3 separate regions of the Homo sapiens genome follow, and regions 1 and 3 are each linked to region 2. The links come from fine-mapping of genetic effects on gene expression. A gene starts in region 2. Each other region holds a variant in brackets. All regions are shown on one strand. Distances are between the middles of the regions.

What was found.
Region 1: its variant is fine-mapped to the expression of PDZD8 in whole blood (INTERVAL, PIP above 0.99). The same link has a PIP of 0.9 or more in neutrophils.
Region 3: its variant is fine-mapped to the expression of PDZD8 in esophagus mucosa (GTEx, PIP above 0.99).

The regions. Positions count from the first base shown.
Region 1 is chr10:117,389,154-117,400,117 of GRCh38, reverse strand. No RefSeq gene overlaps it. Among named protein-coding and RNA genes, the nearest start is that of PDZD8, 19 kb to the right of the region's middle. The variant T/C (reference allele first, on the strand shown) is at 4,652.
Region 2 is chr10:117,368,590-117,379,553 of GRCh38, reverse strand. It overlaps PDZD8 (PDZ domain containing 8), which reads left to right and starts at 4,114. Exons shown (of 5, transcript NM_173791.5): 1 at 4,114-5,198. The coding sequence starts at 4,327. RefSeq lists an enhancer at 3,674-3,793 and silencers at 4,024-4,343, 4,444-4,623.
Region 3 is chr10:117,403,906-117,414,869 of GRCh38, reverse strand. No RefSeq gene overlaps it. Among named protein-coding and RNA genes, the nearest start is that of PDZD8, 34 kb to the right of the region's middle. RefSeq lists cis regulatory regions at 2,954-3,442, 5,565-5,923. The variant C/G (reference allele first, on the strand shown) is at 4,826.

The DNA of each region.
Region 1 (10,964 bases), 21 kb before region 2:
GGCAGTGTTTCATCATGTTGCCCAGGATACTGGTCTCTAACTCCTGAGCTCAGGCAATCTGCCCACCTTGGCCTCCCAAAGTGCTAGGATTACAGGTGTGAGCCACCATGTCCAGCCCTAAAATCTCATTAATCATAAAGATACTGAAAAATCATAGAGATACTGTCAATATTTTTGTAACACTTCAACATGTTTTCCCATCTTATGACTCAAGGCCCTGAAGGCACTTTTTTTTTTAAACATACAGTAACCTTGCAAAGATCATTGGTCTTCAAAAGATGAAGTAAGTCAACATTTTGCAATTAGAGGGAAGAGGTAGTCCATGGTTCAGTGGTCAGGTTTTTACCCAACAGGAAAGGTAGGCCTGCAAATGTTGCTTTACACTTTGTAACTGAAAATTTAACACACGCTTATTAAATGTTTACATGGTGCTAAAAAGACTTATTTGTCTTTTGGGGGAAACTGAAGGGTGCACAGAAGAAAGATGGTCAGCTAGGGGTCCCACGGAATTTTTCTTTGCTAATGTTGACTATCTGATTCCTTTGGATGTATGGTGGAAGAGAGCAAAGGGCTGGTATGCCATGGTGGTTACACAGTCACAATCTGGACGTGGCTGGCTTGGAATACTGCCCCTGCCACTTAGCAGCTGTATGACCGTGTGCAAGCCAGTTAGCCTCTCTGTGCCTCCATTTCCTTCTCTATAAAATGAGAATTCTACACTTCCTTCAGTTTTTATCGGAGGGCTTAGGCTGTTGTATTGTGCTCATAAATGGTACCTTTATGTGTAGACATTTTATGAGCAGTATATCTTGATGATTTCTTTCATGACTTAGAAAAACAAAAGTGTTGGCATTTTCTGAAGATCAGGATCTTATCCTTTTCTATTAGTTGTTTCATTCTGATATGTTTATTATTAAGTTATTTGTCAAAGTACTCTCCTGAAACTCTGCTATTAGGTAATTAAGAATTAAGACACTTAGGCCAGGCATGGTGGCTCACACCTGTAATCCCAGCACTTTGGGAGGCCAAGGCGGGCAGATCACCTGAAATTGGGAGTTCGAGACCAGCCTGGCTAACATCGAGAAACCCCATCTCTACTAAAAATACTAAATCAGCTGGGCATGGTGCCGTGCGCCTGTAATCCCAGCTACATGGGAGGCTGAGGCAGGAGAATTGCTTGAACCCGGGAAGCAGAGATTGCGGTGAGCCGAGATCACGCCATTGCATTCCAGCCTAGGCAACAAGAGCAAAACTCCATCTCAAAAAAAAAAAAGAATTAAGACACTTGATTGCTATGTATTTTCTTAACCAATGTGACTCTACTTTTCCTTAGCAAAAGTGTACAGAGTGCAGGCTCAGAATGAGATGCCCAGCTGCTGAACCTCATTCTTCTGATGTGTGGCGGGCAGAAAGGGCCAATGTAGGCAAGAAGTCTCTCAGTTCAAAACCACCTTCTAAGGCCCCCTTCATCCCAGGGCTTCTTTGGGGACTACGCAGAAGTGCTTATTTGCAATGCAAATACCCCAGATGACCTATCAATCAGTCAATTATCCAGGGTATTCCTTTCCATATTGCCCTCAGACCTGGGAAAGAGAAGGGTGACCCCATAATATCACACACACACTGATATGGTTTGGCTCTGTGTCCCCACCCAAATCGCAGGCCAAATTGTAATCCCCACATGTTGGAGGAGGGGTCTGGTGGGAGGTGATTGGATCATGGGGGCAGACTTCCCCCTTGCTGTTCTCATGATAGTATATGAGTTCTCATGAGATCTTGTTGCTTTAAAAGTGTGTAGCGCTTCCCCTTTATTCTTTCTGTCTCCTGCTAGGCCATGGTAACACATGCTTGTTTCCGCTTCACCTTCCGCTATGATGGTAAGTTCCTGAGGCCTTCCAGCCATGCTTCCTGTACAGCCTGCAGAACTGTGAGTCAATTAGACCTCTTGGTAGTTCCTTATAGAAGCATGAGAACAGACTAATACACACACATACACACTTCTTAAAGAACATGTGTGTTCCTTTGTCACATGGGACCTGGTGCTCAGCACTGGCATATCACTACCCCTAATCCTAAACATCTGCTCCTGGCACCAACGCTGCTCAAGCCCTAGGGAACACTTTTCCATATTTCTTACCTTTTATCCTCAAAACAAAGGCTACCTGTCCTGAAGGTCATAAAGGTTTTTGGGTTGCTGCTGCCAACATCAGAGATGGACACAGCTTCAGAGGGCAGAGAGCATTTTAGTGGTAGGGACCATTAGGAAGAGAAAAAGCAAATTAATTAACTTGTCAATTTCTTCCTCCCAGAGAGCATGAATAAAACAGATTTTTGTTTCGCATAGTATCATTCCCTGTCATGCTGAGCTTTTCTTTTCATTTTATTTCTTTCATTTGTGGTTCCTAAACTCTTCATGAATTACACGAATCACATAATAAAATGTCACCATGTGGTTAGGCTGTAGTAGAACCATCACGTATCAACTATCCATAACCCAATGTCATGATTGACATCTTGAAGATATGATTTGTAATTTTAGGCATGAAATAAGTGCATGTAGTACTGATTATTTGTATTGGCAACTAAGTTAAAACGGTGAATGCTAGAATACTGAATAGTTTATTTTTGTAAAAGTATTTATTATGATTTAACTCCACTGTTAAAATTTTAAACAAAAAATGTAACTTTACTGAAATAATTTCATCTATAATTTTTACACTCATTAATTTATAATTTCTACTTTGCCTTTTTTTTTTTTTTTTTTTTTTTTGAGACGGAGTCTCGCTCTGTTGCTCAGGCTGAAGTGCAATCTCACGATCTCGGCTCACTGCAACTTCCGCCTCCTGGGTTCAAGAGATTCTCCTGCCTCAGCTTCCCAATTAGCTGGGATTACAGGCACCTGCCACCATGCCTGGCTAATTTTTGTATTTTTAGTAGAGCCAGGGTTTCACCATGCTGGCCAGGCTGGTTTTGGACTCTTGACATCAGGTGAACCATCGCCCGCCTCAGCCTCCCAAAGTGCTGGGATTACAGGCATGAGCCACCTCGCCTAACCCTTTTTTTTTTTTTGGAAATGGAGTCTCACTCTGTAGCCAGGCTGGAATGCAGTGGCACGATCTTGGCTCACTGCAACCTCCGCCTCCTGGGTTCAAGTGATTCTCCTGCCTCAGGCTCCTGAGTAGCTGCAACTACAGGCACACGCCACCACGCCCAGCTAATTTTTGTATTTTTAGTAGTGGCAGGGTTTCGCCATGTTGGCCAGAATGGTCTCAATCTCTTGAGATTCGCCCACCTCAGCCTCCCAAAGTGCTAGGATTACAGGCATGAGCCACCATGCCCGACCCTCTACTTTGCCTTTTAATGTAAATATTTTTCATGCTTTAAAAATTTTTTTCAAAAATATTCAACTTTAACTATTACATTTACTTTCATTTTACATTTTTGATGGAAATATATTAAAATTTGATACTTTTTGAATATAATTTTATGTTTTAATCTTTTGGATCATATCAATGGAATGTAAATTATTTGCATACTTTAATTGCAATTAGATAATTAGTTTTTTTCTTGCTGTGAAAGAAAAAAAATTTATGAAATATGTAATGACTCATGATATATGTCTTTATTTTATCACTCATTCAAATATTTCTGGGCCATCAATAGCACGTACACAGTAATACCTGAATTCAGTTATTCTTGATATTTTGTAGACTTTCAGTCAGATAAAAACTATAGTTTTCCAACTTAAAAAGAAAATTTCCATTATGAAGTCGTATTTGTCAATGTAGGGGGAGAAAAAATGTATTTTGCAGCTTGATTTATAATTTTCTATTTTGTTATTATTATTTTTTTTAATTTTTTTTTTTAGAGACAGAGTCTCACTGTTACCCAGGCTGCAGTGCAGTGGTGTGCAATCATAGCAGCCTCAAACTTCTGGGCCCAAGCAATCCTCCTACTTCAGTGTCCCAAGTAACTAAAACTACAGGCATGAGCCAACAGGCCCAGCTAATTTTTGTTGTTGTTGTTGTTGTTTTAATAGAGATAGGGTTCCTATGTTGCCAAGGCTGGCCTCAAGCTCCTTAGCTCAAGCAATCCTCCTGCCTCAGTCTCCCAAATAGCTGGGACTACAACGCATGCCACTTAGTTATAATTTTAAATATTTAGACCATTTGTACTCTAGCCCTGGCCCCACATATGTTGAAGATGAGCCTGACTGCTATAATCAGATGATCAGATAGAGTTTTTTAAAAATTTAACTAATAATAGCTAACTTATTGACACTAAATATGTGCCAGGCCCTGTGTTAAGTACTTTCTACATATTATGCCATTAAATCCTCCCAATAACCCTATGTCATTATTCCCACTTTATTTATTTATTTATTTTTAGCTTTTATTTTAGGTTCTGGGGTATATGTGCAGGTTTGTTATACAGGTAAATTGCATGTCACAGGGGTTTGGTGTACAGATTATTTCATCACCCAGGTAGCATATTGCCCAGGGAATAAGCATAGGTAGTTTTTTTATCCTCACCTTGCTCCCACCCTCCACCCTCAAGTAGGCTGTGTTGTCTATTGTTACCTTCATTGTGTCCATGTGTACTCAATCTTTATCTCCCACTTGTGATAGTTTATCTCCCACATGTGAGTACA[T/C]ATGGTATTTGGTTTTCTGTTCCTGCACTAATTCGCATAGGATAATGACCTCCAGCTCCATGATCTTAATCTATTTTATGACTATGTAGTATTCCATGGCATATATGTACCACATTTTCTTTATCCAGTCTACTACCATTGATGGGCATTTAGGTTGATTCCATGTCTTTGCCATTGTGAATAGTGTTGTGATGAACATACATATGCCTGTGCCTTTGTGGTAGAACAATTTCTATCCCTTTGGGTACACACCCAATAATGGGATTGCTGAGTTGAATGGTAGTTCTAAGTTCTTTGAGAAATCGCCAAACTGCTTTCCACAATGGCTGAACTAATTTTCATTCCCATCAGCAGTGTATAAACGTTTCCTTTTCTCTACAACCTCACCAGCATCTGTTATTTTTTTGACTTTTTAGTAATTGCCATTCTGACGGGTATGAGATGGTATCTCACTGTGGTTTTGATTTGCATTTCTCTAATGATTGGTGATGTTGAGCATTTTTAATATGCTTATTGGTTACATGTATCTCTTCTTTGGAGAAGTGTCAGTTCATATCCTTTGCCCATTTTTTAATGGTATCCCCACTTTATGGAGAGGAACCAGAAACCTGGAGAGTTTCCATGACTGGCTCGTGGTCACACAACCCCTAAGTCCTGGAGCTGGGATTTGATCCCAGGAGGCCTGAGTAACTTTGGGAAAAGGCACTTTGAGAGAGGTGACCTTGATGGGCATCCCTGTGGGGAACTTGGACACATGATCGCAACTGGGAGGGTCCAGGTGCTGGGAGGAAGAGTGGCAAGGAGAAGGCCTCCTGATTCCAGTCTGACTAGAGATCTGATGTCACCCAAGCACCAAAAGCTACCAAGTGTCTGAATGGGTAGGGAGAAGTGCCAGTTTTTACCAATTCTTCATGTTCTTCTGATTTCAGCAATGGATGAGTAAGAAAAATATTCCATTTACTTTTATTACTTTGAATTCTCATTCTCAGTCATTGAACAGGTAAATTCAAAGGGCTGATTCCTTCTTTCCTTCTTTATCCCTCCCTCCATCTTTCTTTCTCCTTCTTTCTCTCCCTGTTTTCTTTTCTCCCTCTCTTTCTTTCTTCAATCACATATATATTGAGCTCCTATTATGTACTAAGCACTCTGCTAGGTAATAAAAAAAAGACAGTGCCTCATCATTATGGGGTTCCCTACGTAGTAGGAAGACAGAGGGCAAACCAACATGAAAATCCTAAAAATTACAACCATGGTGAATGCCATACAGGAGAGATGGAGAATGCTAGGAAGGTGTGTATGTGCTAGGGGAATCTGGCCCAGTCTCAGAGTGTCAGGGAAGACTTCCCTGGAAACCTGTCATTGGATCCAGGTGGTAAGTAAGGTTAACCATACACAGATTTGGGAGAATAGCCAAGCTGAGAAAATAGCTTGGATAGAGGCCCCATGAGGAGAGGGAGCCTATGGGTGGGAATACGAAGATTCTGAGAGAAGGCCAGTGAGGCTGGATGTGTGTTTGGATGAAAGGTTCCGACCATTCCTGACCAGGGGTCAACAAATTATGGCCCATGGGCTGAATTCAGCTACAATGATAGAGCTGAGTAGTTGCAACAGAGACATTATGACCCACAAAGGTGGGAAGAAATTCAGAATGCTGTCTAGAAAATGTATTGTCTGCCTTTTATAGAAAAAGTTTGCAGCCAGGGGCAGTGTTTCACACCTGCAATCCTAGCACTTTGCGAGGCCAAGGTGGGAAGATCATTTGAGCTCAGGAGTTTGAGACCAGCCTGGGCAATATAGAGAGACTTCATCTCTCCTGAAAAATTAAAAATAAAAAAAAATTAACTGGGCTTGTTGGCATGAGCCTGTAGTCCCAGCTACTCAGGAGGCTGAGATGGGAGGATGACTTGAGCCTGGGAGGTCGAGGCTGCAGCGAGCTGTGATCACGCCACTGCACTCCAAACCTGAGCAACAGAATGAGATCCTGTCTCAAAAAAAATTTAAAAAGAAGATAAAAGAAAAAAAAAAGTAGATTTTTTTTTTTTAATAAAAAGTTTTCAGACCTCTGAACCAGATGGTGGAGGTCAGACCTTGCAGGCCCATTGATGATTGTGATCTTTGTCTTAACAGCTACGGGAAACCATCAGAGTGTTTTAAGACTGAAGGAGACAGGGAATAACAGGATCAGATTTCATTAGGCACATTCAGGAGTTGAATATATACTTACATTGTAAGGATATCCCAGGCCAGGCCAGTCCTTCCAAAGATCCCTATAAGGGAATTGTGGCATTAATCTCCTCATAAATGGGTTCTAAGTCTTTCTTGCCTGTGGCAAGTGGTCACAGTCAGTTTCTTCCTACCTAAGCCCCTATTTTGGTCAAAATCAATTGGGAGCAAATAACAGAAGCACAATATAAACCAGCTATACAGCAGGAAGAAAATGTGTTGGTTCACATAGCTGGGAAGGGCAGTAGGTGACTCAGAGAAGCCAAAAAAGAGCAACAGAAAAAAGAGTCCATAGCCCTTGGCTCAGGAACTCACCGCATAGAGAACCATCTCTCCATTTGCCTCTCATCTTTGCTTAATCCTGCTTGGCTTCCTGCACAAACAGACATGCTCCACTGAGTGACCTCAGGTTCATGTTCTCCCAGTTTAGGCACCCCAGCAGAAAGAGAGTGTCTCTTTCCCTAAGCCTGTACATTCATCTTGGGGTTAGATTGTGAGTGGCCCTGCTCAGTCACATGCCCACCTTCTCTAGAACAATCATTGTTGTCAGAGGGATCAGGTGCTATAAATTGGCCAGACCTGGGACATGTGCCTATCCTTAAGGCCAAGGGGTGGGCCTGGAATTGAGAACTTCAGAACAGCCTAGAAGGGAAGAGGGGAGTTTTCAAAAGAAAGGAATGTTGGCCCAGCGCGGTGGCTCACACCTGTAATCCCAGCACGTTGGGAGGCCGAGCCGGGCAGATCACTTGAGGTCAGGAGTTTGAGACCAGTCTGGCCAACAAGGTGAAACCCCATCTCTACCAAAAATTGCAAAACTTGGTGGCGGCCGCCTGTAGTCCCGGTTACTCGGGAGACTGAAGCAAGAGAATCGCTTGAACCCAGGAGGTGGAGGCTGCAGTGGGCCAAGATCGTGCCACTGCACTCCAGCCTGGGTGACAGAGTGAGACTCTATCTCAAAAAAGAAAGGAAGGAAGGGAAGGGAAGGGGAAAAGAAAAGAGAAGAGAAGAAAAAAGAAAAGAAAAGCAAAGTTAGGCAGACAAAAGAATCTAAGCAACCCATGCCTGTGGTATCTGCCAGGCTGGTATGCACAAGCTTTACAGGAGAAGCCAGTTCCGCTGTCCTGGCAACAGCTGACCAGACCAGAGATCAGTCTCGGGAAGAGCTTACAACACACATGTGCCAGACACGAGGGTGGCTGATCAGCTCTGAGGTGACTCCACACAAAGGTCCAGCGGGGGGCCCTCCTCTGAGTGGCAGCAAGTTAACCAATCAAACCTTCTCACTTGCAAATATAAATGATAAGTCAGCAAAAGTGGAGCTTGATGTTGGCAGCAATACTCAGAATCTCATCCAGGTTTCTATGTAGCTCACTCTCCATCCTGTTCCTGTATAAACAGGAACCCACCCAGTAAACCTCCTTGGCTGAAGGAAAGCCAGGACTGTCTTTTCCTCCTAAAGAATTTGCCTGTATTGATCAGTACAATCTGATGCCCTGGGAATTTCTTCCCCTGCCATTTACAGGGAAAATGTTTCCATGCTGAATTTCATACAGCAGGAAATGAGCTACTCTTATGGCAAGGAATGATATGATTACAACAGGGATTTCCTCATTGGGAGGGAATTCAAGCACTTCAGTAGGTGGCTGGGGAGATTTAACCACAGACTTTTTGGGGAGGAGGCTGAAGTGAAAGCTAAGTACAATAAACATGGTAACCCACTGTGGCAGGGCTGGAGTCCTGGGTTCAAGTCCCTGCTGGGGGACCCTGGGCAAGTCACCTCTCCTCTGTCCTCTGGAAGTGAAGTTTTAAAATCATTCATCCATTCTACAAAGATGTGTGGCAAGGGGCGGTGTGGTGCAGAGTGAATGCAGCAGAAAGCCGGAGACACAACTGCAGACAGAGGTAACGGGGACCCAGACATTTGGAGCCTTGGACTTCCCTATGAAGACTTTGGTTTTTACATCGCATGAGATGGGGAAGTGTGTTAGTTTCTTGCAGTTGCTATAACAAATGACCACAAACTTAGTGGCTTAAAACAAACAAGTTTATTATCTTATAATTCTGGAGGTCTAAAGTCAGACCTCTAGCAGGTCTGACTGGACTGAAATCAAGATGTTGGCAGAGCTGCCTCACTTTCTGGAAGTTCTAGGGGATAATCCATTTTCTTGCCTTTCTAGCCCTTAGAGCTGTCTGCATTCCTTACTCTTAGTTCCCTTCCATCTTCAAAGCCAGCAGTGGCAGTTTGAATCGTTCTCCCATTGCATCAGTCTGACTTTCTCTTTTGTCTCTCTCTTCCACTTTTAAGGACCTTTGTGATTACATTGGGTCCAGTTGGATAATTCAGAATAATCTCTTTATCTGAAGATCAGGTGATTAGCAACCTTAATTCCTCCCACAACAGTAACGCCCCTTTGCCACGTAACGTAATATATCCACAGGTTTTGGGGATTAGGATGTGGACAACTTTGGGGGCCATTATTCTGGGCCCCCCCACAAGAAACCACTGGTACGTTTCAAACAGTTGAGTGGCATGATCCGACTTGTGGTTTACCATGGTCACTGTGGTGTCTGTGTTGAAACAGACATTAGGGTAGCAAAGGCCAGAGAGACCTTTAAGTAGAGAGGCCAACTAAGAGACCACTCCAATAATCAGGCCAAATATGGTGCTTGAACCATGATAGTGAATGCGGTGAGAAGTGGTGAAACTCTGAATATATTTTGAGGGTAAAACCAATAGGATGTGTTGCAAGTGTGAATGCAGATAAGAGAGAAAGGAGTCAAGGATAGCACAAGGCTTTTGGCCTGAGCAACTGGAATGACAGAGGTACCATTGATAAATATGGCGGGAAATGCCCAAGGAACTCTCATGGGATGGATATTCGCTCAGTCTTACACACAGTAAGTCATCTCACACCAAGGTGGAGATGGCTGGTAGGCTGTTGGATATATGGGTTTCCTAGAGGAGCTCAGAGTGAGTAAATGCATTTGGAAGCATACACATATGAATAGCATTTAAAGGTAGGAGGCTGGATGAGATCACCTAAGGACTGAATGAAAGTAGAGATGAGGTGAATATGCTCTTGGGCCCCAAAAGTTACACTGATCTCCACACAGTAGATTTAGATCCACTGGCAGTCTCAAGGACTTGCCATCTCCAAGCATGTTGCTGCTGCAGCAATGTTATTCTCTTCCAGAGTTACTTACCTTCCCTGGCTTTGCCAGAGGAGCAGAGCCAGCAGTGATCCCTCCTCTCCCAGCATGATAGGACGTTCTGGTGTCAGTGTTGGCTCCCCTCTACAAAGCCTCTTCCTTCAAACAAGTGGTCTTAGGGCTTCAGGAGAAGGTGGCTCTTTCTCACCAAAGTGGAGAGTAGGTCATGTAAATTCATTCACTTAATAAATACCAGTTGAGTACTTACTATGGGCGAGGCCCTGTGCTGAGTGCTGGGAAACTGTGGTTTACAAGACACACATTGTACAAGTGATGATAGTAAAGTGTGGTGAATACTGTGTCAGGAGTGTATTTGGCTGCTAGTAACAGAGACCTGTAATAGTAGTTTGACAGCTTAAGGGGAATTTTTTTATGTAAAAAAAAAGTTCCAAGGTGGGTATTGCAAAGTTGAGTTCAGCTTCAGTGTCATCAGTGTTCTGAGCTTATTCTGTCTTTCTGCTCAACCATCTTCAGTGTGTGGCATCTATCCTCAAGGTTACCACATGATTATAAAGTGGCCACTGAAGTTCCAGCCATCACATCTGAATTCCAGGCCAGGGGAGGGAGAGGGAAGTACAAAAGAGATATGGAGATAATAAATCAAAATCCTTTGTTGAGCTCCCACCCAAAAATTTTGCTTATATCTCATTGGCCACTCTTATCTGCAAGGCTGGTTGGGAAATGTCATTTTTAAAATCTGAACAATTTGCTGTTCCCAAATTCTTCTTTGAAATGAGTGAATGGATATGGACGAAGCAAGTAGCAGTCTCTGCCATAAGCACCAGGATGAGGGAACATATATTGGATGTTATATGAGGATATAGCAAGGGATAAGCCTTGGTTAGGGCCAGGGGAGTCTCCTAAAGAGGAAGATTTCAGT
Region 2 (10,964 bases):
CTCTCCCAGTCCTTGAAGAAGTTGCCCCACCCACCAGCAGCCCAGAAGAGGCAAGCTCCTTGGTCATAAATTATTGGAGTAGCACAGCCAATTGGAGATTTCTCTCCCAGGATTTGAGATTGAGCTTGCAGGCTACCTTAGCCATCAGAGACATAGGACCCTCTAGATCTGGATAGAGAGCTGGTGCCTCCCAAAGTGCCTGTGTGCTGAGGGTAATGGGGAAGTAGAAACCAAGAGCCTTCTGGAGTAAAATGGCACAGACCTGCAGGGAGATGCAGAAATAAGATACTGGGTAGGGGTGGGGGCAGAGGAAATGAGAGTGAGAGACAGTTTTCTTACTCTAGGATTTCTATGAACATCTTGCAGCTGAGTTCCTGGAGATATTCCAGCATCCTTAACGTGAATCCAATTTTAGTTGTAAGTTAGCCTGAGGTAGTTGCTGTTCCTTGCAATCAATTGTCACTGCCCCTGAACCAGAAGGCTCTGCTCCCATAGTACCTTGCATGTGCCTCTATTAGAGCACTATCTCCTATCATCAGAGTTATGCAGATGTGTGTCTGCTTCCACCTGGGGCGCAGCGCCCCTGTTCATTCAGTATCCCTGGAGCCTAGTACTTGTTGGATGCTCAAAAAATAGTTGTGGAATTTGAATTCTCCCAGTTCACAAAATGGTTTGTTGATGTATCATTTGTTAGGCAAACCTTATAAACTCTATGTTTCCCACCATATTTCACTATATTTGCATTATTTTACATCTTTCAAAAAATCAAATTTGCTTTCATGCTACTCACAAACTTTGCACATTTACGTGGTTTGGCTTTCTCATTATTTTTCGCGGTCACCAGGAATGATTCATAGTCAAGCAGTGGTCCATGCATCCCTCTAGTTGGTGAGAATGTCTTATATGCAACCCATCTTCCAGTATTCAACTGACTTCGACCTTGAAATGGATATTTCCATGAAGGCTGTTGGGGCAGCTTAATTTCAATGATGTCATTTAAAACACATTAAAAAGTCAGCAGGGAGGCTAAGCACAACTGCTTCCTTTAAAAACCTATTCAGAATCATCGATCTTCAGAGCTGGGGCCAGTGGTTCTCAGGCTTTTGAGTTTCTATGAACCAGCATTAATATAAGAAAAAAAGGGAGGGGTTGCTGAATTTATCCTTTTCCAGAAAATAGCATTAAAACAAATTCGTCTCTATTAACATAGTATAATTTCATAAAATAAAGGGCATGCTAACACCAATATTATCCAGAGCATTATCTCCTAACTTATCAAACACAGTCAAGTGTGGCTTAACAACAGACATAAGTTGTGAATCTTTAGGCAGTTTCATCATTGTGCGAACATCAGAGTGTCCTTACACAAACCTAGATGGGAAACCCTACTACATACCTGGGCCATATTGTATAGCCTATTGTTCCTAGGCTACAAATCTATACAGCACGTTGCTGTACTGAATACTGTAGGCAACCATAACACAATGGTATCTGTGTATCAAAACATCTCTAAACACAGAAATGGCATAGTAAAAATACGGTACTATAATCCTATGGGGCCACCATCCTATAGGCAGTCTGTCGTTAACAAGAACATCCTTCTATGGTGCATGACTGCATATTTGACTTTACAAAAACTCATGATATTTTGATTTCTAAATAATGTTTGAAATATTTAAATATTTCTAAATAACATGCTTAACACTGTGCTTGGCACATGGTCAGTTCTCTGTATTATTATTATTAGTGTTTAATCAATGTTGGTCATGTTTCACACAAGGGAGAATACTTTTTTCTTCCCAAAAGGTTTGCTGAGCTCTTTCATGGATTTGAAGTGTGTCCCTAAGGGGTCAAGTTTTGCTGGGGAATGCAATGACTCTGACTCTGTAAAACAAACTGAGAAGATTTAAGATTCTCACAGGTATTCTGAGGAGCGCAGAAGTGAGAGGAGAAGAGAAAAGAAAGGAGTCTGCAAGATGAAGACTGAGGACTCATTCCCATGAAGACCACAAACTTTCATTGTTGAGGAGGGAGGTGGGTGAAGAATATTTTGCAACTCGGGATGGATCAATATACAGTTTGAGGGTTTTATATTTCAGGAATGTGAATAACTTCTTTCATGCCACCCTACTTCCAGCTTCTGTAACATTTATAATATGCAATGTGCATGAATGTTATGAATAGGTTTACGGTGGAAATCATAGAAGGGTCTACATTTCTCATTTGAGTTGAAACAGTGTAGATCCCAGAGAGCAGCCCAGAAGCAGAGGCCAGGAACCAAAGGGGACCAGAGAACAGAAGTTGCCAAGATCTCCGAAAAATCTCGGCCATGGTTTGAGCATGGTTCCTCAGCAGACACCTATCTTATGTCTTCATAGTAATGAAAGCCATTCTGGTTTCGTATCTGGGCATGATTCGGTAAGGCATGATAAGCCTGGTTCCGAAGTTCTGTACCTGTCCCAGCTGGGTCAGGTCTATTTTTGTGGTAGAATCACCTACAGTTAAGAGAATCCTTGGCTTGGAGGTTTTCTTCTTTTTTTTTTGAGACAGGGTCTTGCACTGTCGCCCAGGCTGGGGTGCAATGGCGTGATCTTGGCTCACTGCAACCCCCGCCTACCGGGTTCAAGTGATTCTCCTGCCTCAGCCTCCTGAGTAGCTGGGACTACAGGCGCGCACCACCACGACCGGTTAATTTTTGTATTTTTAGTATAGACGGGTTTCACCATGTTGGCCAGGCTGGTCTCGATCTCTTGACCTCGTGATCTGCCCGCCTCGGCCTCCCAAAGTGCTGGGATTACAGGCGTGAGCCACCACGCCCGGCCGGCTTGAAGGTTTTCAAGGGCTAGAGAGGAGCCCTGCCCTGGCTCCTTAGGTACAGCCAGAATCGGCCTTTAAGGTATGGGATATCTGACTCCTGCAGGACTGGAACTCCACGTGCTTGGAGGGATAAGCATTTATGATGTAACCACTAAGTAGTCAGAGGGCAGGAGGAGTAACGCTGTTGCTGGGCAACCTGGCTTAGCTTCGTGGCTTTGGTTAAGGTGCTACTCTATGCAAAATTCCTTGCCGTCTTCCCTAATCCGCCTCCCCAATTCTCCCTTCCTGAACATTAGGGAACCCACTGGCCTGCTTACAACTGAAGCAGTTTCTGTGTTAGGGCAGAGAGTAGTGATCAAGACATTAGGGTTTAGTGTTAGATAAACCAGGCTCCACTCTGCGGCCCCACGCAACCTCCCCACGCTCTCTGCACCAGTGTTGGCATCTGTCAAGTGGGTGGGGGCTAACAGTGAATAACTGCCTCATAGATGGACTACCGGCTTAACCAGAGACTGACAGCGGGTCGCATATTAATCTTCCAATCACTTGGCAAACTCGTTTCACTATGCATCTCTCCTCCTGGCTGTTCTTTCAACTTCCTCCTCCCTGAAATTTCGAAGATCCACCTCGGTGGGAAAGTCATTCCGCGTGGCGCGCCCTTTCCCTGCGTCCCTCCTTCCCAGGGCCCACCCTCCGCGGACGCAGAGCGTCTGCCGGGGGGACGGCAGGTCCGCGATGGCTGCCTCTGAGGCAGTCGGTCCCCTCTCGCCGTGGGCTTGGGAAGCGTCCGAAAGGCCCGCTCGGATCGTCTGCGGTGCTGCCCGCAGGGAAAGCGCCGCTGCCAGCCGGGCTGTCACGGGTGCGAGTGGAAGAAGCACACCGCAGGATGAGCGACGCCGCTGCAGAGGTAACCGCGGGGACTGCGGCCAGAGACGGGGGATGGGCGCAGCCGAGGATAACGGGATGGCCGGCATCCGGAACGCGTCAGGCCCGCTCCGCCGGACCGCCTTATCCTCCAGCCCGCGTCCCCAGCCGTCCTCCCAGATCCCGACCGCAGCTCCAGAAGTGACGGCCACGTGGGTGGCGGCGCGCGCCGCGGGGATTGGAATGTTGGCGTGGGGGGACGAGGTTGGAAGGGCCGCAGAGAAGTAAAGGAGGACCCGCGTCCGCGTGCCCGGGCGCCGACTGCTGGGCGACGCCGCCGGGAGCGAGCACGCCTCTGACGTCACGCGCTGCTCGTCCAATGAGTGGAGGCCTGAGGGAGGCGCCGGTCCCGGCCCCGCTGCCGCCGCCGCCACACCGGCCCTTCGGGAGCGTCTGAGGAGGCGCGGGCCGCTGCGGGCTCGGGCGCCGCAGCGCGCCGGCCCGAGCCCCTGGACGAGGCCCACGGAGCCGCTCGCCCCGACCCAGCCGCCCGATGTCCTCAAAATGGAGGCAGCGGGGGCGGCGGCGTGAAGAAAGCGGCGCTGTGGGCGCGGGAGTAGGGGCCCGGGCGGAGGCGGTGGCGGGATGGGGCTGCTGCTCATGATCCTGGCGTCGGCCGTGCTGGGTTCCTTCCTCACGCTCCTCGCCCAGTTCTTCCTGCTGTACCGCAGACAGCCCGAGCCGCCGGCGGACGAGGCCGCCCGCGCGGGCGAGGGCTTCCGCTACATCAAGCCAGTGCCGGGCCTGCTCCTAAGGGAGTACCTTTATGGCGGCGGCCGGGATGAGGAGCCCTCCGGAGCGGCCCCTGAGGGCGGCGCGACCCCCACCGCGGCCCCCGAGACCCCCGCCCCGCCGACGCGGGAGACTTGCTACTTCCTCAACGCCACCATCCTATTCCTGTTCCGGGAGTTGCGGGACACCGCGCTGACCCGCCGCTGGGTCACCAAGAAGATCAAGGTGGAGTTCGAGGAGCTGCTGCAGACCAAGACGGCCGGGCGCCTGCTGGAGGGGCTGAGCCTGCGGGACGTGTTCCTGGGCGAGACGGTGCCCTTCATCAAGACCATCCGGCTCGTGCGGCCAGTCGTGCCCTCGGCCACCGGGGAGCCCGATGGCCCTGAAGGGGAGGCGCTGCCCGCCGCCTGCCCCGAGGAGCTGGCCTTCGAGGCGGAGGTGGAGTACAACGGGGGCTTCCACCTGGCCATCGACGTGGACCTGGTCTTCGGCAAGTCCGCCTACTTGTTTGTCAAGCTGTCCCGCGTGGTGGGAAGGCTGCGCTTGGTCTTTACGCGCGTGCCCTTCACCCACTGGTTCTTCTCCTTCGTGGAAGACCCGCTGATCGACTTCGAGGTGCGCTCCCAGTTTGAAGGGCGGCCCATGCCCCAGCTCACCTCCATCATCGTCAACCAGCTCAAGAAGATCATCAAGCGCAAGCACACCCTACCGAATTACAAGATCAGGTGAGCTGGAGGTCGGGGAGGGGGCCTGGCTGCCGGGAACCCGGGCCTGGGCGGGACGCTGCGTGGATTGGGAAGGGCAAAGGCTCATTTCTGTCCTGGCGCCTGCTTCTGGGGCCTTCCCACCCTGGACAGGGCCCCAGATCAAGGCGAGTCGTGAACACTTGCTTTGCTTCCGAACGGCATTGATAGGAGCTAGAAACCTTTTCGCGTGTTCATGGGGACTCAGGGTGCTGTCAACGCGGGCAGAATCGTCTCCTTTTATAAGCAGCATATTGGAAATGGAAGGGAAGCCTACCCTAATCCCCAGGAGTCGCTTCTGGGACTGTTGAGAAACTCTCCCTCTATGTGGTTGCTGCATTGAGGGCAGCCGCGTCACTGGCTTTGCAGCATCCCCTTGGCCGCTTTGAGAAATTGTTCCTGGACACAGTACACGCGTGAAGAGTGTGCTTATAGCCCAGGTCTGTGCTAATTTGACATTGCAAGCCACTTTTGCTTTGATGGTTTGACACCTTTCAAGGCAGAGGTGGTAACTCTTGCAAAGGAATACTTTTGTGGGTTTTTTTTGTTTTTGTTTTTGAGACAGAGTCTTGCTGTGTCGCCCAGGCTGGAGTACAGTGGCGCGATCTCGGCTTACTGCAACCTCTGCCTCCCAGGTTCGAGCGATTCTCCTGCCTCAGCCTCCCAGGTAGCTGGGGTTACAGGCGTATGGCACCACGCCTTGCTGATTTTTTTTTTTTTTTTTTTTTTTTTTGTATTTTTTAGTAGAGACGGAGTTTCACCGTATTGGCCAGGCTGGTTTCGAACTCCTGACCTCAAGTAATCCGCCTGCCTCGGCCTCCCAAAGTGTTAGGATTACAGGAGTGAACCACCGCGCCCGGCCCGGGAATACTTTCCACAGCAGATGGGAAAGGAGTTGGGAGCCTGTACATAGTGTACTTTACATTTTGTATTAATGTCATTTGCCCATTTTGGGTAGATTGTAGAACACAGATCCAGACTCTGCCCATCAAGCATTTACTCTCTGTGACTGTAAGTTCTTCTCTCAAGGGACCTGAAGTCACTGTACAAATTGTATTTTAATGCTAGGTAGTGATTTTAATTTTGTTTAAGCCTTCCAGCATCTGATGGCTTAAATTTTGTGGTATACAGTTTTGAGTAGTATATAAATTTTGTTTTAATATTGTAGGAGTGGAAGGGGAAAGACTTTTTTAGGGCTAGAGGTGGAGTGGAAGGTGCTTTTTCTTTTGTAAAAAGCTGAATTTTTAACTTCTCTTTCGGTCCTCCTTTAATTTTGTATTCACTAAGACATTTGAGCCTTTAAAATTTTGCCCTTTATTATAAAATTATGTCAGTCTTGTATTTTACTTACCTAATTTTACTTGCCTTTTAGTGGAAGTTGCCTATTTCTGGATCACTAATTTTCTACCAGTGTCAATTTTCAGGAGCAAGATAATCCAGAAATATTTTGGGTTTGGAATGGATTATTGACTTCTGTATGTGGCAGATGTACCTTACCAATTATGTTTTGTTTAGGCTAACAGCGCAGAGTGACAGTTTAAAACTTGCGTGGCAGGAGAAATTTACTTTGTAATGGAAATATTTCCATAGATTTGCGGAGGGTGGTGAACTGGTTGTTCACTGTGTTCGATTTCTGGTTCTGTGAAGTAGAACATACTTTATGAAACCTACTTTTAACCTCTGGAATATCAGTGATTAAATTATAACTCGGTTCTAGTGTTTAAGCAGTGAGAGATGTTTATTTATAGCAGTGTGTTGCCAAAAAAGTCATGAGAAAAAGTTGCTAGAAATTTTGGTATTCTATCACAACTTCAATTATGATGTTTTCTGATAGCTTTCAGTTAATACAATTTGACTAGATTATTATTTTGAAATTTGTAGACTAGCCAATGACAGTGAGATTACATATCATTTTGAGATTTTTTTTTTAATGTAGACTTGGAATTTAGGTAAATCTGAAGTAAGTTATGAATAAGTTATGGAGGCATTGAGAAGTTTATTACTTTGAAAAACTATTATCTGTATCATTGAATAACAACCATTTAAAAGTATGGCAAAATTGCTTTTCACTTTGAAGGGATTTTTTTAAAAACAGCATGAATTTGGTTATGATATTTCAACTTCTAAATGTGAAGCATTAAATGATCATTTCCAGAAGTATGCACATCTGTGCTATTTATACTGGATGGCATCTCAATGCTCAGTCAGCTGCACAGAGCATATCACTCAATCTGTAAATGTTTATTGTACACCTGCTATATGCTTATCCTTGTTGTAGATGCTGGGATTTCAGTACTGAACAATACTTGAACTCAGCCCTCAGGAAGCTTAGAGTCTAGTGAGAATTGAATTAGCTATACTTAGTAATTTTTTTGTGTTTTTCGTTTGTTTGTTGAGACAGGATTTTGTTCGGTTGCCCAGAGCTGGAGTACAGTGTCAGGATCATGGCTCACGGCAGCTTCGACCTCCTGGGCTCAAGCAATCCTCCCATCTCAACCTTCCAAGTAGTTAGGACCACAGGTGTGTGCCACCACTCCTGGCTAATTAAAAAAAAATTTTTTTTGTAGAGATAGGTCTTGCTTTGTTGCCCAGGCTAGTCTGGAACTCCTGGGTTCATTCAAGTGATCCTCCCACCTCAGCCTCCCAAAGTGCTGGGATTACAGGTGTGAGCCACCTTGCCCGGCGCTTTGTAAGATTTAAACTAGAATGGGATTGATGGGGTTGAAGTAGCCAGGAAGCCGGTTTTAGCTTAGTAGAAGAAAATAGCAAGTATGACGATGAAAAGGGCTGCCTCAGCAAGTGATGACTTCTTGTCTGTGTAGCTGTTCTGTCCAGTGTTTTAAACTGGTGATGGGCCAGGTGCAGTGGTTCACGCCTGTGATCCCAGCACTTTGTAAGGCTGAGACAGGCGGATTACTTAAGGTCAGGAGTGTGAGACCAGCCTGGCCAACCTGATGAAACCCCGTCTCTAGTAAAAATGCAAAAATTAGCTGGGCGTGGTGGCGGGCGCCTGTAATCCCAGCTACTCTGGAGGCTGAGGCAGGAAAATGGCTTGTACCTGGGAGGCAGAGGTTGCAGCCAGCCGATATCGCACCACTGCACTCCAGCCTGGGCGACAGGGTGAGACTCCGTCTCCAAAATAAATAAGTAAATAAATAAATAAACAAACTGGTGATGATGTGGGACTGATTCAAGTTTCAGATAAGAATGAATTACAATACATCTAAGATATAGCATACTTCTCACAGGGAAAATTAAACTAGCTAGTGTTCATCTTTTTTTACAGATGAGGAAATGGAGCTCGGAGTAGTTAAATAACTTGCTTAAAGTCACACAGCTTTCAAGTGTTGAAACGCAGCTCTGATAAGGCCAGGCCACCTTTAAACACACACACACACACACACACACACACACACACAAACTATGTTGTTCTTAAGTGATTTATTTTTTAAAAGCATGCCATCGATATAGTAAATATGTGGGATATCTTTCCAAACTAACCTAGAACTCTTGAGAAGAGTATGACTATAAAGCTGATTTTTTTTTCTTAAATTGGTCATTTTAGAGGATCCTTTTAAAAGTAAATCATGAGGCTAAATCTTTGGGTACTGTCCCACGTGGCATTTCTTTTTTAATTGAGCAGAATTGTGTTTCCAAATAGAAGAGACAGGTTTCACCATGTTGGCCAGGCTGGTTTCGAACTCCTGACTTCAGGCAGTCTACCCACCTCGGCCTCCCAAAGTGCTGGGGTTACATGTGTGAGCCGCTGTGCCCGGCCTAGTTTATTCTTTTTTAGCTATCTAATCTTCTTAGTAGAGCTAAAGCAGTAAAGAGAATTGTATGGAGTCTTACGATCCTTTGGCATTTGTAATCATTACATAACAAATATCTTGCCAGTTAACGTTGTTATTACTTCTTTCCCCCTTCATTTATTTTGCCTTTTTCGTGTTGCTAAAGTGAATCAGCCTCTCTGGACTGCCAGTTCCTGATGTTTCACCTAGAGATGCTAAGTTGCTCAAGTGGTTGCTTTCTAAGGACCCAGCTGACTGACATTTCATTTTACCCAAGTTAACAAACTTACAATGTTTGTAAAACATTTTATTTTACAAAATGAATTATAATATGTAGACAATATGTTTACAGATTTATTCAAGTTAGGAATTTCATTCATCCACCTCAATGTTAATTGGTTTGATTTTTTAATTAAAATAGTATATTATAATAGCAATATATTTTTTTAAATGAACCTCAGAATCCATCCTCAAGGGAGAAAGATTACCACTAATGTTCTTTTACTACGTGGATAATTCATCTTAAACATGGAGTCTGAGTAATAGTGTCTGGGTGGGGAGCTCTGTTTAGGGTTTAGGAGTCAAATATTTGAGATTCTTACGGATGCTTGTGTTCCTGGAGTATTATTGTATATAGACAAGCAGATTCAGTTTGCAGGTACTTTTAATTTGGCCTGCACTGTTTAAAAAATGGAAAATTCTGTGTGTTTTGGATTTGTGGCTTCTGTTAGGAAAAATTGGAATATCTTGTAGCGCCAGTGCTGCATTTCTCAGAGCAACAACAGGATGGAGAGATGGACTGTAGTAGCAGCTTTGGGGTTGAAACTCGGTGTGTAAGCTCCTAGGTGGAGTTTATAGTCCCCCCTTATTTGCTGTGCTTAATTGATGGTACTTGCCTGGCTTGGAGTTATATGAATTTGAGACCCGTACTGGAGGAGTAAATAGGGAGCATTACTGTTGCTGATTAGTGAAAATGAGAAGACTTAATAGCTGGAGTGGAGAGGGAGAGTGATCATTTTTATCCTTCTTTTAATTACATTTTTGAAGGGACTGTCATAGAGCAATTTTATTTTTTAAAAGACATTGTTGGCCAGGTGCGGTGGCTCACTCCTGTAATCCCAGCACTTTGGGAGGGCAAGGCAGGCGGATCACTTGAGGTCAGGAGTTCGAGACCAGCCTGGTCAACATGGCGAAACCCCATCTTTACTAAAAATACAAAAATTAGCTGGGCATGGTGGCACATGCCTGTAATTCCAGTTACTCAGGAGGCTGAGGCAGGAGAATCGCTTGAACCCGAGAGGCAGAGATTGCTGCAAGCCGAGATCATACCACTGCACTCCAGCCTGGGCAACAGAGCAAGACTCTATCTCAAAAAGTAAAAATAAATAAATAAATAAATAAAAGACATTGTCAGGCCTGGCGTGGTGGCTGATGCCTGTAATCTCAGCACTTTGGGAGGCCAAGGTGGGTGGATCACTTGAGGTCAGGAGTTCGAGACCAGCCTGGCCAACATGGTGAAACCCCGCTTCTACTAAAAATGGCACGCACCTGCAGTCCCAGCTGCTGGGGATGCTGAGGCATGAGAATTGCTTGAACCCAGGAGGCGGAGGTTGCAGTGAGCCAAGATTGCGCCACTGTATTCCAGTCTGGGCAACAGAGTGAGACTGTCTCAAAAAAAAAAAAAAAAAAAAAAAACATTGTCAATATAATGTTGAATTTTAAAAAGTCACTCTGCCAGAAAAAAAAAAATGCCTTGAAATGCAATCCATTTTTCTACCATGTAGTGATGGTAAGTAGATAGTGTCTCCTTTTTGTTCGAGTTTGGTGGATAGTTTGCTTTAGTGGAATGGGTCATTAATAACTATGTAAGCATTTACTTCACTGATCTCCAAAAAGGGGGGCATCAACTTATTGACAGTATATTTGAATTTAATGAATTGAGTGATCCGTATCTCAA
Region 3 (10,964 bases), 35 kb before region 2:
AAATTTTAAAAAATTAAAACAATTGAAAATATCGGCTAATCCTGGCCCAGTGCCCAGTGCAGTGTGGCATCCCCCTCTGCAAATGGCTCATGGCTGCTACCCCGCACCTTTTCTCTGGGACAGTCAGGGGATTACACATATGTCAAACTGTTAATACTGGTATTATCTGTGACCATGCTTGACAAAAAATGCACCCCAAGCTGTTTTTCCTCTACCTTGCGGTAAAAGGCTTTAAAAAAGTAACCAGCCAACATTGAAAATAAGTGTCCTTTTTGAACTCCCACTTAGGTGAATGACTTTGTGCAGGCATCTCTTAAAACAGCTGCAACCACAGCAAGGCCATGAGGAAAAGTCACAGAGGACAAAGACAGAGACATTTAAATACCATGTAAGCCAAGAGGAACCACTCTGGATCTAATTCCACTTTTGCAAGGTAAACATTTGCCTTGGCTGAGACAGGAAAGAAAAGTAAGGGCTGATGACCTTTGAGGTGAATCAAACACATCTCTTAAGAAGGTCTCAATTTTTAGGAGGAGGATGATGGCCACTTGTCCCCAAGGGCTGAACAGGGGCACTAAACCAGGAGGAAGAAGACCTGGGCTCTTTTCCCACCCACATCACTGGTGATCCACATGACATAGGGTAAGTCACCTCCTCCTCCCTAATCCTCTTTCCTCCACTGACAAATGAGGGTTTGAACCCAGAGAACCTGTAGGGACGTTCCAGCTTTGTGATTCTTTAAAACAAACATTGATTGAGAAAGATTCCAGGGCAAGGAAGGAGCAGGAACTGTGCCCCATACAGTCATCCAAGAGTCAAAGCCTGGCAAGTTTCCAGAGCCCAGACAGGAGATAAATGAGGAAAGATACATGATGTGGCCAAATCTCCAAATTTCCATGAGAAATGAAAAATCTAGATGTTTATATCCAACCTCCTGCTTTTCAAATGATACTAATTAATTCAAATTTTTTTTTGTTTGTATTTTGTTTTTGAGACGGAGTCTCACTCTGTCGCCAGGCTGGAGTGCGGTGGCACGATCTCTGCTCACTGCAACCTCCAACTCCCTGGTTCAAGCTATACTCCTGCCTCAGCCTCCCGAGTAGCTGGGACTACAGGCACACGCCATCATGCCCAGCTAATTTTTGTATTTTTAGTAGAGACGGGGTTTCATCTTGTTGGCCAGGATGGTCTCGATCTTCTGACCTCGTGATCCACCCGCCTTGGCCCTCGAAGTGCAGGGATTACAGGCGTGATCAAATTTTTAAAATAAACGTTTGTGAGCTAATAAAAATTGCCTGAACAGAATTAGATCCCCAGGCTGCCAGATTGTGTCTTTTGTGTGAGGTCACGTCATCTCCTAAATGGGGGTAAATGAGGATCTCTGATCTTTTCAACAATGATCTTTCAACTTCAAAGCTGAAGACAAATTTTAACGACAAATACCTAAACCATGTAACTCTTAGAGAAATGTTTTTCAAACTTTTTTTTTTTACCATAACTCACAGCAGAGTCCATTTTACATTGCCAGTGGTCACACACACATACACACACATGCACATACACATACAAAATCAGAAGAAAAGACTCACAAAACTTATGCTTACTACATGCAATACACTCTGATATTTTCTATTCTTTTTTACTTCATGTTAATGCAGGTAGCAACCCATTAAATTGATTTCATGGGTCATATTTGCAAAACATTACTTTAGAGTTTATATTTACTTAATTCTCATTTAATTCTCCCTCTCACCTTATGAGGTAGGAATTATTATCATCCCCATTTTACAGAACAGAAAAAAAGAATCTCAAGCTTCACACTCCAGATCTAGCTTTTTTTCTCTTCTTCTTTTAATCAAGAAAGGCATGAATGAGAGGAATTAAAAGATGTCAAAGGGCCAGGTCAGAAAGGAAGAGTCCCAGAGGCAAAGCAATCAAGGTGCGCCTTGGGGAGAATTTTAAAAATCAAACAAGGGGATTAAGGCTGTGTGCTGTGGAGCATGCAACTTACAAACTGCTCTGTCTCCCCTGTGAAATCTGCAGGAAAATTTGCATGGCTGCCCATGCTGATGGGTGAGTGGCTGCTTCAAGGAGGAGCCAGATTTATTATCCACGTGGCCCAAGCAGAGTCAGAGAGAACATGGGTTATGCCGGAGGCTGGGAGGTTGCTACTCTCTAGGTCACATTCATGAACTTGAAACCAGCTCCAGACTTGTAGGAATTGGGGACCGGTGGTTGCAGGGTGAGGAGAGAATGGATAGGCATCGAATCCAGAGCATTTGACCACCAGGGCTGGCCTGGGAAAACTTACCACTGGACTCTATTAATGAACAGACAAAAGTTCCATGTCTTCTGCACAGGCAATGATCAGAGAAGAGAAGAGGAGACAGAAGCCCAGCCCCTGATGTCAGTGAAAGACTGACATAGGGGGAGATTTGATGTGTTAAGAGTGATGAACCTTTCTCCTAATTGAACCAGTCAGCTGAATCTAATGGTACCCTTTCTAATCAATCTTGTTGCAACCATTTGTGATGGGGCAGGAGCCTAGCAACACCTAGTACCGCCTAGCACAACCCAGCACAGCCCAGCACAGCACAGCACAGCACAGCACAGCACAGCACAGCACAGCACAGCCCAGGCCAGCCCAGCACAGCCCAGCAGAGCACAGCATAAACATTGATTGCGCGAGGACTCCAGGGCAGGATCCTGTAACACATCCGGGCTGTATTCTAGAATGGTTGAGTCTATTCCCCGCTCTTAGTCTCTTTTCTGTCTTCTACCTCCAGATGCCTAAAGAGAACAAATGGAGATGGGTGTCTGTTTACAAAGCCAAGCAGCAATGATTTCAAGTATCTGCTTTGGGTAGCTTTCTGCATTCTCCAAAGTTGATCCTTCCAGTGTGGTATAAACACAGTTGTTGGGCAATGTTTAAAGTCAATGAGTCTTAGATTACCATCGCAAAAGTCAATTAACAAGGCAATTTCTTCCCTTGATTTGTATTTGTATATTATTAATGAACTACAAGACCTCCTAGTGAGGTAAATTAGCTTAGGTAACTGGGGAGCAGAGTACAAACATTTTTTTTTCTTTAATGGCCCCAAACATTTATCTCATACAGAGAAAACAATATACAAGCCCAGGGAGGGCTCCCTGTTCCTGCAGCCAAGGAAGCACACCGGAGCAGCTCTGATAAATATTGATGTCTGTTTATCAAAATGCCACAGGCCTTCCTGGCTAGCTGCCACCTCCTCCCACCTCGTGCAGTCCTAACTGGCAGGACTCATTATGTAAGGAGGAGATACAGAAACCTCAACTGCCATTGCTGAAGGACTTTTAGCCTTTGTTTCCTGAATACAAAAAATAAAAATAAAAAATTGTCCTGACCTACAACGGTTGGTGCCAACCAAAGGACCAACATCCTTTCTTTAATGAGGGGGCAGAAATATAGACTCTTATGTACAAAGAGAATGGTAATTGAAAAGATCTCTGACTCACTGAAATAATCAGCTTAGGGATGTGTGAATGCTCCCCCAAAATGCTGCCTTGTTACAAAATCAATGCCATTAAGAAATAAATTGTGCTACATGTAAGTTTCAGAGGATTAACACAGAGATATTGATAACCGCCCATTCGACATGTCATGATTGAGCTATGTGCAAGGCCATGTGAATAATACCATTAATTTAATCCCATTTACCTATTTTTAAGTAACACTGTTCAGCCCCAAAATGCCTGGGGACTGATAGCAGAGTAAAAATTAATAATTAATGTATTCCTGCCTTTAAGAAATATTGATTGAATGCTGATCATGTAGATACCAGACAGTAGGCATGGAACAGAAACTGAAAAAGATATAGTCCCTCAAGGAACCCAGCAACTATTTGGGGAGACAGACAGGTAGGTAAAGCATTATATAGCAGGCTGTGATAGAGAGGTGCACCCCAAGTCCTGCGACACACAGAAAGGAGCAGTTCATTAGAAACGGCCAAGAAGGTGTCCTGGGGAGAAGCCAGGTGCCCTCTGCTCATGTCCTCTATTTTATCCCACGTTGATTCCTGCTCCTGGGATGATAAACTTATTCCTCCAGGTGGCCTTCTCAGAAGGGCTGGCAGACCTCAGATGGGCAGATTTCAGATAAGCAGATCTTGATGGGCAACCCTCAGCTGGGCTGGCAGATGGGCAGACCTCCATGGGTAGCTTTCAGATGGGCAGACCTCACTGAGCAGCTCTCAGATGGGCAGACCTCAATGGGTAGAGCTCAGATGGGAAGATTCCAGGTGGGCGTCTCCTTATGCCCAAAGAATCCCATCTTCTCCCTTTAGAGACACGGTAAAACTAAAGACAGCTCCAAATTAATTTTCTTTCTGATAAAGTGTCCTGTTTTCTGTTTGCTGAGGCTCTTTTGAGAGCTCCTTGATACACTGTAGTTGAGGCTGACACAGGGAGAGCCCTGGGGGTACTCCACAGGACCAAGGATTTCAGGATCCTCTTAAAATGATCCAGGGAGATTCACATGGGGTCAGAGGCCTGGCAGAAAGCCTCAAGTAGCCTCTTCTACCTGCAGATGGCAAAAAAAGCAGAGCACAGCTGCCTGATGGCTCATTCCTCCATGATTCTGTGGGTCTGTGTGTGTGTGTGTGTGTGTAGATTTACATTTTATGGGTTCCTACAGGAATGGCATAATGAATATCTATACTCAAAGTTCCCTTTGTCTGGAAGATGCCCCACCTCCCAACCTCTACCTCTCCACTTCACCCACTTAAACACCTACTCACCCTTCAGATCTCAAGGAAATAGCCTTCCTCAGAGAAGCCTTCCCTGCCCC[C/G]TCAGGCTGGTTGCCCGAGTTGCTCATACTCACTCTCATCGTGCCAAAGCACTGTTCCTCCATAGCCTTTGTTAAAGCTTGCAAATATGCATTTATTTGCATCATTTTCCTTTATCTCTGCCTGCCTCTCCCTCGGCTATAAGCTCCATGTGGGAAATAGAAGTCCAGCTTTTTCACCTCTGTAATCCTATCTTTAGCTAAATGCCCAGAACTTAGTTATGCACTCAACAAACTCTCACTGATTTTTGAATGAACATCAAGGAAAGGGACTCTCCCCAGAACCTGTTTCTCCTGTTGTCCCCACACCCCTGCCTGGTTTGGCTTTGGGTTTTGTTTCAGGCTTTGCTCTGTTGATCAAAAGCATTATAGTCAAATATAAAGTCTTTCAACTTCCAAACGTGTCATGTGCCACTGAGTCTAAAGGAGCCATGCAAAGGCAATATGAAAAAATAATGAACCGTAATTTTTATTAAGGTCTACATCCAAAACAAGCCAAATATTATACCAATAGTAGTACACATTTGTTGTTTCAGGGAGAAGACTATAACAGATAAAAATCAATAATGTTTTTGTTCCAGTGGATTAACTTCATGCTTAGAACAGAAAGAAAATCTAAATGGATGGCTTTTCTGCTTTTTCCTTCTCAGTAATATGATGCGGTTATATCAAAGGGAAGAGTTGGCAGAGACAGAAAGTTAGAAGGCTAAGGACATTTTCTAAAGCAGGAAGGAAGATTTGAAAAGAAGGTTAGATTCTCCCTGACCTGTCAAGTTGGTGGCTGAATGGAACTTAGCTGGCTGGTTTTCTGCCCTTCAAAATTATCTTTGGCCCTCAAGTAGGAACTTCCAAGGGTATCTGACAGCAACAGATACCCTTGGACAAAGGCCTCCAGACACAAGAGCTCATCCCTTAGCAAGAGTTGATTGGACCAAGGTTGAGTGAGTTTCTCTCCCTGGAATTTGGAATCAGGCCACAGAGCCATATGCCTTTCTCTTAGGCACTTGAAATGGGATGTGAAGACAGGTCAGGTTCAAGGTGCCTGGACTGGCCCCATGAGTGAGGAACCAAAGAGAGCCAGCCTGCAGGCATAGAGAGAGAGAAATGACAAACGAGGAATGATCAGGTGTCATGACAGCCACCCCATTCCCAACTGTCTAGGTTCTGAGCCTTGTCCATTATGAGGCCAGCCTGAACTTCCTGTGCTTGGAATTCATAATATTCCCTCGAGTCCTCCTAGAAAGTGCCCTTCCTCCACCTTTTTGGTTCTCAAAGTTAGTTTAAGTGTGTTTCTGTTCCTTGTAAATTAGCTAACCACGGCTGTTGTAACAAACTGCCACAAACTGGGTGGCTTAGAACAACAGAAACTTATTATCTCACAGTTCTGGAGGCCGGAAGCCTGAAATCAAGGCATCAGAAGGCCATGCTCCCTCCTAAGCCTCTGTGGGAAGATTATTCTTTGCTTCCTCCAGCTTCTGGTGGCTCCAGATATTCCTTGGCTAGTGGCTGCACAACTCCAGTCCTGCCTCCATCTTCACATGACCGTCTCCTCTTGTCCCTGTGTCTTCTCCTCTCCTCTCTCATCACTTGTCATCTATTTAATCCAGGATGATCTAGATCCTTAACTATATCTGCAAAGACCCTTTTTCCAAATAATGTCACATTTATAGGGACCAGAAGTTAGGAGTTGGACATATCTTTCTGGAGGCCACCATTTAACTCACTATACCTTACAGCCCACTGGGCCCTAAGATGAGTTTACCGAATATTCCTGAGCAGCCTTGCAAAGTGTGAGTGATCAGCTGATGCACAGCCCACAATACGAACTGTTTATAGATTCTGAAGGATGATATGTGAATAAGGCAATTGGAGTTTTTTTTAATGGGAAAAGTGTTTTGTGGCATTTTGTTTTTGAATATTCTGGGATAGAGTGAAGCCTTGGTCTATCACATCTGAAGTCACACCTTCTCCAGTCTCTTTTGGATTGATGAGAATAATTATAATGTAATGGCCACTGTGATGTACTGCTAGGTGCCAGCTGCTGCACTTGGCTTTTTTTTGTTTGTTTGTTTTGAGTCAGAGTCTTGCTCTGTTGCCCAGGCTGCAGTGCAGTGGCAGGATCTCAGCTCACTGCAACTTCTGCCTCCAGGATTCAAGAGATTCTCCTGCCTCAGTCCCCTAAGTAGCTGGGACTACACGCATGCACCACCATGCTCAGCTAATTTTTGTATTTTTAGTGGAGATGTGGTGTCACCATGTTGGCCAGGCTGGTCTCGAACTCCTGACCTCAGGTGATCTGCCCACCTTGGCCTCCCAAAGTGCCGGGATTACAGATGTGAGCCACCACGCCCGGCCTGTACTAAGCTCTTTATATGGCATGTCACTTCGAATCTTTACCATGATCTTTTGATGGTGGGATTATTATCCCCAGGAGTCACACCCAAGTAGGTCAGTGCTTTAAGCCACCAGGATGGCCTTTTTCAAGATCTGGCATTTTGCGGGCTATGGATATTAAAAGAAGATCTAGTGCGGGCAGCACCGGCCAAGTGCCAGTCAATACATTTGGTGCACTATGTTTGTTATCTCACGTGATCTTTACAGCTCCTCCTTGAGGGAGACAGTGCAGAAATTAGAGGAAGGCCGATCCCACTAACCAAGGCTTCTCATGGATATAACCTGCTGAAGTCAGTGAGACAAAGTCTCAGATATTCCAGCTCCTGCAGGCCCAGGGGGATCAGCCCCTACAGATCTACTCCCAATAACTTAAAGAAACATGACACATGTGGACAACAGAATGGCAATTGGAAACTTAAGTTGACAAAGCACCCCTTGAATTGGAATGCTCTTCTTACTTGAGAAGCTGCCCATCTCACCTCCCAAGCTGTGAGTCTGGAAGGGAAGTGAAGTAAAGCAGCCCCCTAGAGAGAAAGCTTAAAGCTTCCCTAGGCAAGTTTTTCACCTTAGTAATTTTCCACCCCAACCCCAGAGAGGATTTCCTTTCAAAAGCCTCACACTGTACTCATAATTTCCCTCTTCCTACTAATTGCCAATAGTACTGCTTCCCCTCCTCCTCTCTCCCTAAGAGTTGAGGACACGGAGTTCAGATCAAAATTACAACCTTCCTTCCCCCTCCATTCCTCCTCATGTAGCTCCATCCACACAGTCATCCAAGTCAGCCACCTGGACGTCTTCCTCAGCTCCCCTCCGCCCTCTGCCCCAGAGCCATCGGGCATCAAGTCCTGCCTACCTATCCGCCTCTCAGTGACTTCCCCTCTCCCTAGCCCTCATTGCCCTGGATTAGGTTCCCAGCATCTCTCTCCTGGACTTGGTCAGGTCTCCCTGCCTCCATCATTCTTTGTTTTCGTTTGTTTTTGTTTGTTTGTTTGTTTTGTTTTGTTTTGTTTTGTTTGAGACGGAGTCTTACTCTGTCGCCCAGGCTGGAGTGCAGTGGCACAATCTCGACTCACTGCAAGCTCTGCCTCCCAGGTTCACGCTATTCTCCTTCCTCAGCCTCCCCAGTAGCTGGGACTACAGGCGCCCGCCACCACGCCCAGCTAATTTTTTGTATTTTTAGTAGAGATGGGGTTTCGCCATGTTAGCCAGGATGGTCTGGATCTCCTGACCTCGTGATCTGTCCGCCTCGGCCTCCCAAAGTGCTGGGATTACAGGCGTGAGACACCGCGTCTGGCCTGTTTTCATTTTTTTTTTTTTTTTTTTTTTTTTGAGATGGAGTCTCACTCTGTTGCCCAGGCTGGAGTGCAGTGGCACAATCTCGGCTAGCTGCAACCTCTGCCTCCTGGGTTCAACCATTTCTCATGCCTTGGCCACCTGAGTGGCTGGGATTACAAGTGCACACCACCACGCCTGGCTAATTTTTGTATTTTTAGTAGAGACAAGGTTTCACCATGTTGGCCAGGCTGATCTTGAACTCCTGGTCTCAAGTGATCCACCTGCCTCAACCTTCCAAAGTGCTGGGATTACAGGTGTAAGCCACCAAACCCAGCCCTCCATCAGTTCTTAATTTGATCTTGTTGTTTCTTTGCTTTTGTTTGCATCATTTTCTTTTACCTCCACACGGGGTCAGAGACCTGGCAGGAAGCCTCACGCAGCTTCTTTTACCGGCAAATGGCAAAAATCTCCATTCTGGCATTGCATAAGCCTCCAGCAGTGGTTTTCAAAATGTGTCCAGAGGAACCCCAGCTTCATGGTCCCTGTTGGAATTTTTTTTTTTTTTTTTTTTTTTTTTTTGGTGGAGTCTCACTCTGTTGCACAGGCTGGAGTGCAGTGGCATGATCTTGGCTCAACTGCAACCTCCACCTCCTGGGTTCAGGCGATTCTCTTGCCTCAGCCTCTGGAGTAGCTGGGATTACAGGCATACACCACCACACCGAGCTAATTTTTGTAGTTTTAATAGAGATGGGGCTTCACCCTGTTGGCCAGACTGGCCTTCATCTCCCAACCTCAAGTGACCCACATGCCTCGGCCTCTCAAAGTGCTGGAATTACAGGCGTGAACCACCATGCCCAGTCCCTGTTGGAATTTTGATTCCAGAAAAGAAATTCTGCCTGAGTTTTGAACAAATTGAGGACAAAGTATTTAGACAAATGGAAATAAAAATATCATCTTTATTACTGAAAAAGCTATATTAGAGGATGTGGCTTAGCTTTGGCCAAATAGCATGGTGACAATTCCCTGAATTAAACCACAGATGCCCTACACAGCACAAACATTCCTCCTTCTTGGAAGTGACTGCTTTGAGAGGCGGGTTCCCAGGTGTGGATAGAGAAATACGAATTAACATGCACACCCAGGGTTTAGACTTTTGTAAAAGTTGTCAGGCAGCATTTCTCAAAGCTTGCACCTTGGAACACTAACCTTAAGAAGAGCTGATCTGGGAAGAAAATGCTACATGGCCAAATGCCTTTAGAGAAAACCATACAACATGTTCTCCCTCGAGAATCACAATGCACATAAGGAAATTAGTCTCCCTGGTCTGCAATGATGAAATCAGACTGACCTTGCTTATTGAACGTTGACCCTTGTTTCCCAACATTATCTGACTAAAAGTACTTTGGGCCGGGCACGGTGGCTCACGCCTGTAATCCCAGCACTTTGGGAGTTTGAAGCGGGCGGATCACCTGAGGTTGGGAGTTCACAACAAGCCTGACCAACATGGAGAAACCCCGTCTGTACTAAAAATATAAAATTAGCCAGGCATGGTGTTGCATGCCTATAATCCCAGCTACTCAGGAGGCTGAGGCAGGAGAATCACTTGAACTCGGGAGGCAGAGGTTGCAGTGAGCTGAGATTGCACCATTGCACTCCAGCCTGGGCAACAAGAGCAAAACTCCATCTAAAAAAAAAAAAAGTACTTTGGTGAGTCTTTTTATGTTTCTATGGGAAATAAATGACATCAGAGTAAGGCTGCTGGCCTCTCTCTGTCCCCAGGGCAAGAGAAAGAAGAATGACTTACATGATTGTGGAATGGAGTAGGGGGCTCAGGCCCTTCCTCCCCATCTCTTCAATGAGGGTTTTCCTAAGCAGGTCTTTGGTTTTCACTTTTTGCTGTTTCTCACAGGCTGTAGCTCTAAATTCTCTTCTGAAATTTTTCTGTTTTGACCCCGCATCGATTTTGACAGCAGAATGAGCAGTTAGGGATGCTTTTTTTTTTTTGAGATGGAGTCTCGCTCTGTCACCCAGGCTGGAGTGCAGTGGCGCGATCTTGGCTCACTGCAAGCTCCACCTCCCGGGTTCACACCATTCTCCTGTCTCAGCCTTCCGAGTAGCTGGAACTACAGGCGCCAGCCACCATGCCCGGCTAACTTTTTTTGTAGTTTTAGTAGAGATGGGGTTTCGCCATGTTAGCCAGGATGGTCTGGATCTCCTGACCTCATGATCCACCCGCTTCAGCCTCCCAAAGTGCTGGGATTACAGGCATGAGCCACCATGCCCAGCCCAGTTAGGGATGCTTTAATACAAAAAGTTTATGACTAAAGTAGGACTGGGTGTGGTGACTCATGCCTGTAATCCCAGCACTTTGGGAGGCTGAGGCAGGCAGATCACCTGAGGTCAGGAGCTCGAGGCCAGCCTGGGCAACATGGTGAAACCCTGCCTCTACTAAAAATACAAAAATTAGCCAGGC